2 separate regions of the Homo sapiens genome follow, and region 2 is linked to region 1. The links come from fine-mapping of genetic effects on gene expression. A gene starts in region 1. The other region holds a variant in brackets. All regions are shown on one strand. Distances are between the middles of the regions.

Region 1 (5,379 bases):
CACATGAAGATGTAAGAAGCAGTAATGGAGGCAGGAGATAGGATAAAGTTACTTCTCCTCCAGCTTTTACAGGTCAGACCTGTTAATAGTAGGCACTGCCCATCTCTTTTCTCCAAGATTGTGGCAGGTGGAAGTCACTATTAACTGCTTTGATGCTGCAGCATCAGTCTTGCTCTTCTGAAGATTAGGAAGTGGAGTTGCCACAACTCCCAATTCCTAGCCCCCGTAAGAGGCCAGCACATTCTCGGACATATTCCAGGCTCAGCTAAAACGTTACACTTGAGGAGACTTGAACTCACAGCCTCATATCATTTAGCAGTTAGTTAGCATCAAATAACTGCTAAAGTTGCCCCAAATCAAGGCAGCACGATGCCAGGACTTGGTCTCTTGTCCTTCAGTTCCCCAGGTAGCCCCACTCTTCCCTTCCTGAGAGGGACCAGCCATTCCTGCCTGTGGCTTTGTGCTCATCAAGTGCATAACTGTAAGCTGAAGGACACCTGTGTGTATTTCTGACAGTGACATTAAGAGCGTGTTTTGCAAGATATTACAAATGCTTAGCAAGATGTTCCTCCAAGTATTTCCTCTAGTTATCATTATGGTTTTATAAACTTTCATGGCCACAAAGAGTTACATTCAAATATATAAATTGGGAAACCTATAAACTAGATGTTTGTTGGACTTTTAGGACAAATAACAAATGCTCTAAACTTCTGCTTCAGGGACCCTTCTCATCTGGGACCATTTTCAATGGCAGCTGGAATGCTATGGGTTGGGTACTACATTTTGCCCTGGCAGGAACAGAAGGCAAGCATGGAGAACCAGCACCAGTGGATGAGAGGTACAGGGCAGCAAACTGCAGCTCCAGGTCGTCAGGCTGGAACAGTGACAGCCATCCTAAGGTGGAAGGGGCTGCCTCTTTCTCAATTACTAAGCCAAGATAGGCAACAGCGAGAAAGGGACACTGCCCAGGGCTAGGATGAGGAGATTGGCTAGCTTAGCTGAGGCCCAGGACTCCCTTTCGGACGGTCTGTATTATTGTATAAGAAACTCTAGCCTAGCAACGCCCATAAGCCAGGATAAGGAAGTGGGCTAAAGAGGAGGGGAAACTAGTGGGGAAGGCTACAGATCTTTACAAATTAGGACATATTTTTACAAGTTGCAAAAAGTTTGTAGGGCGGTGGAAAGGGTGGAGGCGTCAGGGGAGAGCATGAGAAGGCTGAGCAGAGCCGGGCTGTGGAAACGTAGGGAGTGACTTACCGTGAAAGGCAAGGAGCAGACGGCGAAGGTGATGGTCATGATAGCCAGGAGAATGAGGTGGTCCGTCTCCTCCGCCATGGACACCCTTTCCCCTCTCCTGCGGGCCCCGGGGCCGCCCCGGCCACTGCCCAGGGAAGGTCCGCAGCGGCTTCTCCGGCTTCGGCGGTGCATGCGGATGAGGTTGAGAATGACACTGAAGTTGCAGGCGAGCACCGAGACAATGAGAAGCAGCAGCAGGGTGGCGTACAGCTGCAGGTAAGCGGTCCGCCCGTGCCGGATGAAGCACCAGGTCCCGGGGCAGTACTGGACGTACTGCCCATAGTCCAGCAGCGGCAGCGAGCAGAAGAGCAGGGAGACTGCATAGATGACAGGCAGCACGGCCAGGCCCCCGGAGCGCGAGACGCGGCGCTGGTAGAAGTAGGGGTGCCCGATCGAGAGGTAGCGCTCCAGGGCCATGGCGAAGAGCATGAGCATCGTGGCCAGGCTGAAGAAGGTCATGGCGAAAGCGAAGTAGGTGCACGCGCGGCTCTCGGGCGCCAGTGCCACCAGGGTCTGGTTCCGCGCGTACGAAGCCAGTACCACTGGGCTGATGAGGCAGGTCCCGAGCAGGTCGGTGAACACCAGCTCGGTCACCAGCACGTGGAACAAGGAGAGGGAGCTCCTGCGGCCGGCGCTGCACCCCACGTCCCCCCGCCAGCGGCGCGCCAGCAGCGCCAGTGCTATGAGGTTCCCCAGCACCCCGGCCGAGAACATGACGGAGCTGATGGCTGGGCTTTCGCCTGGGGGAAGCCACTGTCGCGTCTCGCAGTCCTCAGACTGGGAGTCATTGGAGGCATTGCCCATGGTGGGGTGCCTGGAAAAGAGATGCGCCCTCCTCTCCCGGCCTTTACCTGGGAGGAAGAGGGTCTGAGAGCCGGAGCGTTCCGAGACTCAGAGGAAAAAGGGGAGGGACCGAAATCCAGAGCCCCCTTCCCGCACCCAGCGCGCCGACGGCGGCTTGCCCTGGGTCTCCCGCCGCGCGCCGAGTGGCGGCTCGGCTGCTGCATCCGAGCGGCGCTCGAGGCTCCCGCGCCTACCCGCGCCGGCCAAGGCCGGGAGCCAGAGCCTAGGGGAGCCGTCGTCTCCGCCCCCGCACTGTCGGGGGGCGGGCCCAAGAGTGCTGGCCAGGCCTTGCAAGTGCGAGTGTCCGCGAGCTGCAGGGGAGGCAGGACGCGTCACACTCGCGGGGGCGTTCCGAGTCCCTGGGGCGCGCCGGCGGGGAGGGAGAGAAGGAGTCTGAGCACCCGCTGGGCGCGGCACTGGGCAGAGGCGCGCGTGTTGCCGGTGTACTGAAGCTGCCCGCGACCGGCGGGAGCGGCGTTTCTCGCTTCCTCGGGGTCCGGTACTCGAAGCGCACGGCAGTCTGACCTCGGCTGGGAAGCGTTAAGCCCCAGCAGAGGGCTGGGAGGGAGTGCAGGAGCACTTGCGGGGTCTGCGCAGAATACACAGAAGATCGGGGCAACGAGCAAAGCAAAGCAACTCACCAAACAATGAAGTTAGGAGAACCCAATCCCGTGAAATGAGCGGAACAAGGGAATAACAGTGCAAAGGCAGCTTGAAGTAAGACCAGAATGTTTTGCTTTGTTTTTACTATTCCCAGGAAGATACACTAAGAGGTTGGGACAAAAATTGGGATGAAGCGTAAAGCAAGTGTGTCCATCCAAGGAACCAAACCACACAATGCGCACCACCGAGCGGCCTGTTGCACTGCCGCTTTGATTCGGTTACTAGCATTTCACCGTTTCCTATGTCAACAGCATAACGGATAACCACTTGTTTAAGCAACCATTAAAAAAAGAGGAGTGTGTCTTATACAGAATTGTGTTTGTGGATACAACATGAAAACCATTGCACATCACTGTTCTGTCCTTAAGCTGAGCCTTGTAAGAAAATGTTGATATTTTGTTTAGCCGTTTATCTTTACATGTTGTTAACCACGTAGTATCCATCCAGAAAGACTTGTTCCTGGCAAAGTGTATTGGTAAGTGGCCAGTTTCAGACTGGAGCTGACAGTAATGGTTTCCTACCACATATTGTCATAATTGCAGAGTCGTGAAAATGGGCTGATATTTAACACAAAACAAAACAAAACAAAATCCAGTTTGGCAGACAACATAGGTAATTGTGTTCTGTAAGAAGTCACATTCACTTGGGGAAGGGAGGCCAACTGGGAAGTGAAGGGTCTGATCTGCCTAGGGAACTGGCAAGAAAGACAGTCATAACGTGGGAGGAAGCAAAGATTGCCTGCTGAAGAGCCTATCTTGCTACAGCCTGCTTACTCTCCATGAATATTTTTTGCCAACTTTGATGATTCTGGCCTGGGGATTGGAATGCGGAGTTGGGGGGGGTGGTTCCCACTAGAACAAGCATAATTTACTGGATCGCTTGCAAAGTTTACAGGCCGGTTTTCACATGTCAGCAGGCACTACTTCAATCCCTAAACTTCTCATGGCATGGATTCCTAGGAAAGAGGATCTTAACTCCTACAGTTTTTCTTTCAAGCTGTAAACTCTGCAGGTCAGTAACAACTTATTACCAATCTTTGCCATCCATCTCTGACTATTCCCCTACTCCAACATTCCCCCATCTCACCCCAAGCAATGGGGAAACATCAAACTTAAATCAGAAGTATTTCTTAATAGGAAAACACTATGATTTATAGCATAATTCTGCACTGCAGTTTTACTATTAAATAAGGGATTTTAGATTCACTGAATTTGCACAGTGCTTATTTTCCGAATATTTTTATACCTTTTTAATTTTCATAAGGCCCCTCACAACAAAAACCTACTATTTAACCTTTCCTATATATTTGTCTCTAGCTTTTCTTTGGATGGGTACCTGGTGGCAGGCCGGCCCCTGGTTTTTGTGAATACGAGAGCAAGAGTGCAGTTGAAGATCCTCCCCCAGGCCCCTGCCCCCTTGTCTTCCTAACCCCTGACTCAGTCTTGCACCACAAGGAGTCTTGCACAGAAATATGTGGAGAGTATAGTTCAATATGTGGACAGTATAGTTCAATATGTGGACACTATAGTTGTTGATAACCAAGCTCTCTCCCCAAAGCCACCTTGGTCCTGGGAATATGCATCTCAAACATGCAAATGACCCTTGATTGGATGGACCTAGGGAAGATGCCTGATCAAGCCCTGGAAGCGAGTTATGGGACCAACATTTGAGCAGGAAATTTCATGATCTCAGGTACCTGGAAGGTGGTCTAGAATGGAGGGGTAATGGGGTCTGGGTGAATAGTGCCCTGAGGGTGTCTCACCTGTGGTAAGGTATGTGACAAGAGGAAGACTAGAGTGGGCCCTATAAATCTTGGGAGGCCAGTATCCTATTAATTACTGTGCTGCTCAGCATTGCTTGTTCAAATTACTCCTTTTAATTGCTTCCAGCATTTGGACAGAATACATACATATGTGTGTGTGTGTGTGTGTGTGTGTGTGTGTGTGTGTTTGGTTTAGCAGTTTGCTGTGTTCCCTGTTGCTAGATTGCTGAGTAGGAGAGTTGATAAGTTTGCTGTCGCTACGTAGCAACTGGACCATCACGTTTGTTCCTTTAAGTGCAAGTCTAATCTTGCTTGTCAGTTACCCCCAGTTAATTTTGTGGTTTAAAAGCTACTTCTTCCCATTTCTAATTTTAGTGTCAGCATTTTGATACAGTTTCAGTTTACATAGAGCCTAGAGTTCCTTAACAGAAAACAGATTAACACCCTCAATTCTAGAATTGAGCCATAGAGCTTTGCTAATTGTTTAGTTCCTGTTTGTGGGGCCATTGTATGTGGGGAACACTATGTGATGGTTAATTTTATGTGTCGACTTGACTAGGCCATGGGATGCCCAGGTAGCTGGTTAAACATGATGGCGGGGTATGTCTGTGAAAGTGTTTCTGGAGGAGATTAGTGTTTGAGTTGATGGACTGAGTAAAGCACATGCCCTTCTCAGTGTTGGTGGGCTTCATGCAATCCATTAGGGCTTGAATAGACTAAAAAAGTAGGGGAAGGTGAAATTCACTCTCTGCCTCACTGCATGAGTGGGGACATTGATCTCCTGCCGCTGACACTTATGGTTTTCAGGCCTTCAG
Region 2 (5,379 bases), 100 kb before region 1:
GGCCCGGGATTGTGGGGAATCCTGGAGGAGGAGCAGCTAAATTAGTCTGGGGGCCAGAAAACCTTCCTGGGGAAAGGATGCTTGAGCTGAATTTTGGAGTATAGGTAGAATTTACTAAAGCAATTTCCAGGGAGAGGAAAGAGCCTGGGTGATGACATGGAGACCTCAAACAGCCTGGTGCATGCAGAAACAAGAGCACTAGTTCCATTTGGAGTGAAGAGTGTTTGAAGAAAAGACATGCAGGAGGCCAGAGAGGAACAGGAGCCAGATACAGCAAAGTGTTGTTGAACTAGTGAGCTTGAACTCTGAATTGTAGGTTATGATTTAGGGTTACAAGCCTATTCAGTTATTCCCCACCCATTCCCAAGAGTAAAAAAGTAAACTTCAAGTGTTTCTATTTTGATGAAAGAGGAGAATTAAACATCTATGATAGATTACCTTAAACACATGGTCTCCCTAAAATGATAATTATAATCATTTTAGAGTAAGAGTCCCTTTCTACCAGCCCCTTTGCTTGCATTAACATAAGTAGATTAAGCCCTCTGGGGGATTAAAAATTGTAGGTGAATGTTTTATCCTGGAAATTACAATGAATCAGATACTCTCTAGGGCCAAAGTCATTTCCTGAAATAATTTTTCCAGACTATTAGAGTACAGTTTATTCCCTGCAATATAAATTGCACAAAATGGGAACTGAGTTAGTAAACCTCCCTTAGCATCTCAATTACTATGGTTCCAGGAAACAACTTAGGTATGGGAAGGAGACAGACCAATACCAATATTTGCACATCCATTTCTTTTCTTTAGTTTGGCTTCAAAGTCTTCCAGTGTTTCTCTGGTTTCCTAGAAGACTGGGACTTTGAGAAGCAGATTCCCACAATAAAGTCTTAATGTAATTCAAGAAGTCAGAAAGAGTGAAATTATTTAGATGTTTGTTATTCTAAAGTCTTGTGAAAACATTTTGTCTTTCAGTTTTAAAACTCCTTTATGTGTTTTTAAAATTGTGTTCTGGTATACTCAGAGAGTTTATACTATGAGCATTTCAGAAGATAGTCAGTATTGATATGTTTATATCACATCCTGTGTGTGATGGTTGCTGCAGAAATGATTGATAATAAGTTTATTTTACTCTAAAGTTTACAAAAGTATTGATTCATACTACCTTGTATTATATTCAGTTTCCCATTTATAAAGCCCTTTCCTATACATTGTTTAGTTTTCACAATATCATTATAAAATAGACTCAGTATTTTACAAGCTAGGAACAAAACCAAGAGGTTGTGGCACATGGGGCTGGGCGCGGTGGCTCACACCTGTAATCCCAGCACTTTGGAGGGTCAAGGCAGAGGATTACTTGAGGTCTACTAAAAATACAAAATTTAGCTAGGCATGATGGCATGGGCCTGTAATCCCAGCCACTCAGGAGGCTGAGACAGGAGAATCACTTGAACTTGGGAGGCAGAGGTTGTAGTGAGCCGAGATCGCGCCACTGCACTCTAGCCTGTGTGACAGAGCAGGATTCCATCTCAAAATAAATGAATAAATAATAAATAAATACATAAATAAATAAATAAGTTACAGCACATAGGTCACAAACTAGAGTCTTCATTTGCATCATCTAGCAGAGCTTTTCATAAAAGAGACCCTTGTATTTTTTTGTGTGCTTCACTCTCCTCCCCTCCGCTACCCCCTCCAAGATTCTGCTTTAACAGTTAAAAAGCTGCCCAGATGATGCTGATAGTGAACCTGCTTGGGAACCCCTGGTTAAAGGGATTTTTCTGTCTTTCTTTCTTTCTTTTTTTTTTTGAGACAGAGTCTCACTCTGTCTCCCAGGCTGGAGTGCAGTAGTGCAATCTTGGCTCACTGCAACCTCCCCCTCCCAGTTTCTAGCAATTCTCCTGCCTCAGCCTCCTGAGTAGCTGAGATTACAGGTGCCCACCACCACGCCTGGCTAGTTTTTGTATTTTTAGTAGAGACGAGGTTTCACCATGTTGGCCAGGCTGGTCTCGAACTCCTGACCTCGTGATCCACCCGCCTCGGCCTCCCATAGTGCTGGGATTACAGGTGTGAGCCACCACGCCCAGCCAGTTAAGGAGATTTTTCTGAAGCTCTTAAGGAGTAGAATCAGAGCTTGAACCAGGCATGCAGACTGCAAGTCAAGGGTGTTTCCCATAGACCACAAGTTAGGTAGGAGCAGTTGATGGGAGGCGAGGGGTAGGGGTAGAGGGATGGATGTTGATGGAGGTGAATTAAAATCTTATGGCAATTTTCCTTTAAAAACAATTTTTTTTTAAAGTGAAGATGGAGTGACAGTCAAGATCAGAAATTTTCAGATTGGTAACATTTTATGGGATGTTGTTAGTATGGATGTTCATCATGTGAGTGTAATCTTTCTGTTTCTAGGCATGAAAAGCAGGAAATGCAGGAAAACAAGACAGAGGAAATGGTAGATCCATTTGTATCTTTTAAGGAGACATGGTGAAAAAAAATCCATGATAAGCTGTAAACCTGAAGATGAATCATGAAAAAATAATTGCCATGAAACTGTAGTAAATTCCCAGGTGTGTGGGGAAGAGAGACTCCATGTTTTAGAAGATAAATTACACTCAAGTCCCAAGAAGGAAGATCTGAGTGGTAGATGTTTCCATTTTTATATTACTAATGATGAAACTAAGGCTCAGAGAGGTAAAGGAGCTTGCCTAAGATGCTCTGAAAATATGTGGGAGAAACCACCAAACCATTATTATAATAAATGATCATAAATGATAAAATAAAGAAAAACCCATAAGAGAGGAAAATAAAC[G/C]CCAGGACACTGTGAAAGGCCTGGCAAATGCAACCTACAATCCATTTTGTGATATTGATGAACTATAACATCGATTTACCCTGTTTTTGTCACCAAAGGAAGCCACTGAGCCATGGTTATGAGATTTCTTCTTGGACATTTGAAAGTGAGATTTTCCAAATTCTTATTTTTCAGAAGTTGATGAATTTCAGCCCTAGGCAGGATTTTTATAAAACAAATTTAAGGGAGAATATATTTTAGATAATTTATTTGTGCTGCCATTTATCACCTGTTGGTTGAAGACTGGTGTTTTAGGTGATGCTGTTATAAGTAGTACTGCAAACACTTTCTGCTTTTAAGTGTGTACAGGTCTCAGAATCTGAATTACATGGTATAGTGCTTTTGTAAAGTGTATGTTTTCAATGGTATAAAGGACTTTTAAAGTTTATTTTGATATTTTAAATCATCAATCACCTGTATATAGAATTTGTTGTTTTTCACCTTTTCTACGTTGTTACAAATGTATCCCAGTCACTCGGCCATAGTTGTCTAGGTTTTCACAAAGGTGTTTCTTTTCTCCATGTCTTTTCCAAAAGACTTTCCAAGCTCTAGGATTCAAGGCAGACCTCTCATACCTCTTACATCTTACTTAAATCTGATTTGGGCTTCAGGGAAAACACTGAAGACACAACCAGTACCTGAAACATTTTTAGTCTTAGTGTTTTGATTTATCCTTGGTCACTTCCCCTAGCCTATGAAGGGAATTTCTGATTGAGTTCTGCATCTCTGATTTTTAAAATTTTGATCATAATTCATTTTTCCTGAGAAAGCATTTTTATATTTTAGGAGTATAAACCCAAGAATTCACAAAGGTATTTTTTCTTATAGGAATGCATGAGATGATTTGCCTTTCTAAAAGTAAATGTAAAACCTATAAACTATGTGATTATACTTTCCCAAGTTTCTAGGAATCAACCCAAGTGCAATTATTATAAACATGTAAGAAATCATGTCTACCATTGAAAATATAAAATTTAAAAATATATATTTGTTCATAACAGAACCTATAATCAGCAACTTCTTTGTTTTCCTTGTCTTACTGTTCCTTCTTGTAATTGTTGACAGACACGCATTTTAAAAAGAATGAAAGTTCAGTATTTGTGGGAAAGAATTTCAGAGTTATTTCTAGTAATTCCCTTGCTCCCTTAATGAGCCGGTATGAGATTTTTTTTAATGTGTAGAAGACTTTATTTTGTTAACACTTGCTCTAATCTAGCTTCATAAAGTGGAAGTTTTCTCTCTCCACTGATGCTATGGGAAATCTGAGAATTCAGGCCCTATCCATTGCTGTTGGTCCATCCCCCTGAAAATGATCTTTAGCTTTTGGTCTGCTAGAGAAAAATAATGATTTTTATGGCTCCAAAGTGTCCTTTTAAAATAGAGATTTTTTTGATATCTTTCAACTCACCTTTTATGTTTTCTGATAATAATAAAATAATCCTCTGAGTAAATGCCCTTTTATACAGATGTGTGACAAGTAGTTGAATGGACAGAACTTCTAGTTGAATAAATAATTTTGTACTTTTTTAAAATTAAGAATTACTTTTTTTTTTTTGAGACAGAGTCTGGCTCTGTGCCCAGGCTGGAGTGCAATGGTGCTATCTTGGCTCACTGCAACCTTGACCTCCCAGGTTCAAGCGATTCTCCTGCCTCAGCCTCCCGAGGAGCTGGGACTACAGGCACACGCCACCATGCCCAGCTAATTTTTTTTTTTTTTTTTGTATTTTTGGTAGAGACGGGGTTTCACCATTTTGGCTAGGATGGTTACTATCTCTTGACCTCATGATCCACCTGCCTCAGCCTCCCAAAGTGCATTACAGGCATGAGCCACTGCGCCTGGCCCAAGAATTACTTTTTAAATGAAAATCCACAGATTCTTGTTTTATATTTTTGGATTTTCAGATCTTGATATCTTTTCAAGAAAGGCATAGTCTTGATAAATAATATTCAAAAATATATTAACATAAATACTATGTATGTTCCTGTAATTTCAGAGCTTCACTATGTATGCCCATATATGTATATGTGTATATATGTGTGCCTGTGTGTGCGTGTGTTTCTGGTACAAATTGATTTAATAAACTATTTGAAGAAAAAACTATCCCTGATTACCTAAGTCAGATTTTATCATATGAAATTTAGCACATTGTGTAGTTTGTTCTATTCCGTGTGTTTCTGAATTGTTTTAGTTGTCATTAGTGCTCTCTGATAGTTACCAAAAAAAATAGTTGTAAATATTTGTAACATCAGGAATCTTGTTTCACCTTTGGTTTAATAGTCTAAAATTCTTTGATCCTGAATACAAAGAGAAGTCCCAGAACATTTAGGAAGGTTGATGGAAGGGTAATTGGAACCCAGGACTACATTCTATCTACACATGCACCTAGTAAGCTAGAGGCTGACTGCTGAAACTGCAGGTAGAGGTGGCTCTGTTAGAGGACCTGTGCTTGCTTATGCAGAGCTCCACTCCACAAATATCCTATATCTAAGGAGGGATTTTTTTACTTGGGGTCTGTAATACACATAGGTAAAGTGGA

Direction of the effects. Alleles are on the strand shown, and positions count from the first base shown. SD is a standard deviation of normalised expression in the study named.
For the expression in fibroblasts of the gene that starts at base 2,337 in region 1, allele C in region 2 goes with a lower level than allele G (small effect, 0.25 SD a copy in GTEx).

Evidence for each region. PIP is the estimated chance that this variant, and not a neighbour inherited with it, causes the effect.
Region 2: its variant is the best candidate, but not a certain one, in a credible set for the expression of PTGER2 in fibroblasts (GTEx, PIP 0.57).

The regions. Positions count from the first base shown.
Region 1 is chr14:52,311,270-52,316,648 of GRCh38, reverse strand. PTGER2 (prostaglandin E receptor 2) reads right to left here and starts at 2,337. Exons shown (of 2, transcript NM_000956.4): 1 at 1,258-2,337. The coding sequence starts at 2,100. RefSeq lists enhancers at 1,443-1,582, 1,603-1,752, 1,987-2,546, 2,547-3,107 and a silencer at 2,273-2,382.
Region 2 is chr14:52,414,858-52,420,236 of GRCh38, reverse strand. No RefSeq gene overlaps it. Among named protein-coding and RNA genes, the nearest start is that of PTGER2, 100 kb to the right of the region's middle. The variant G/C (reference allele first, on the strand shown) is at 2,804.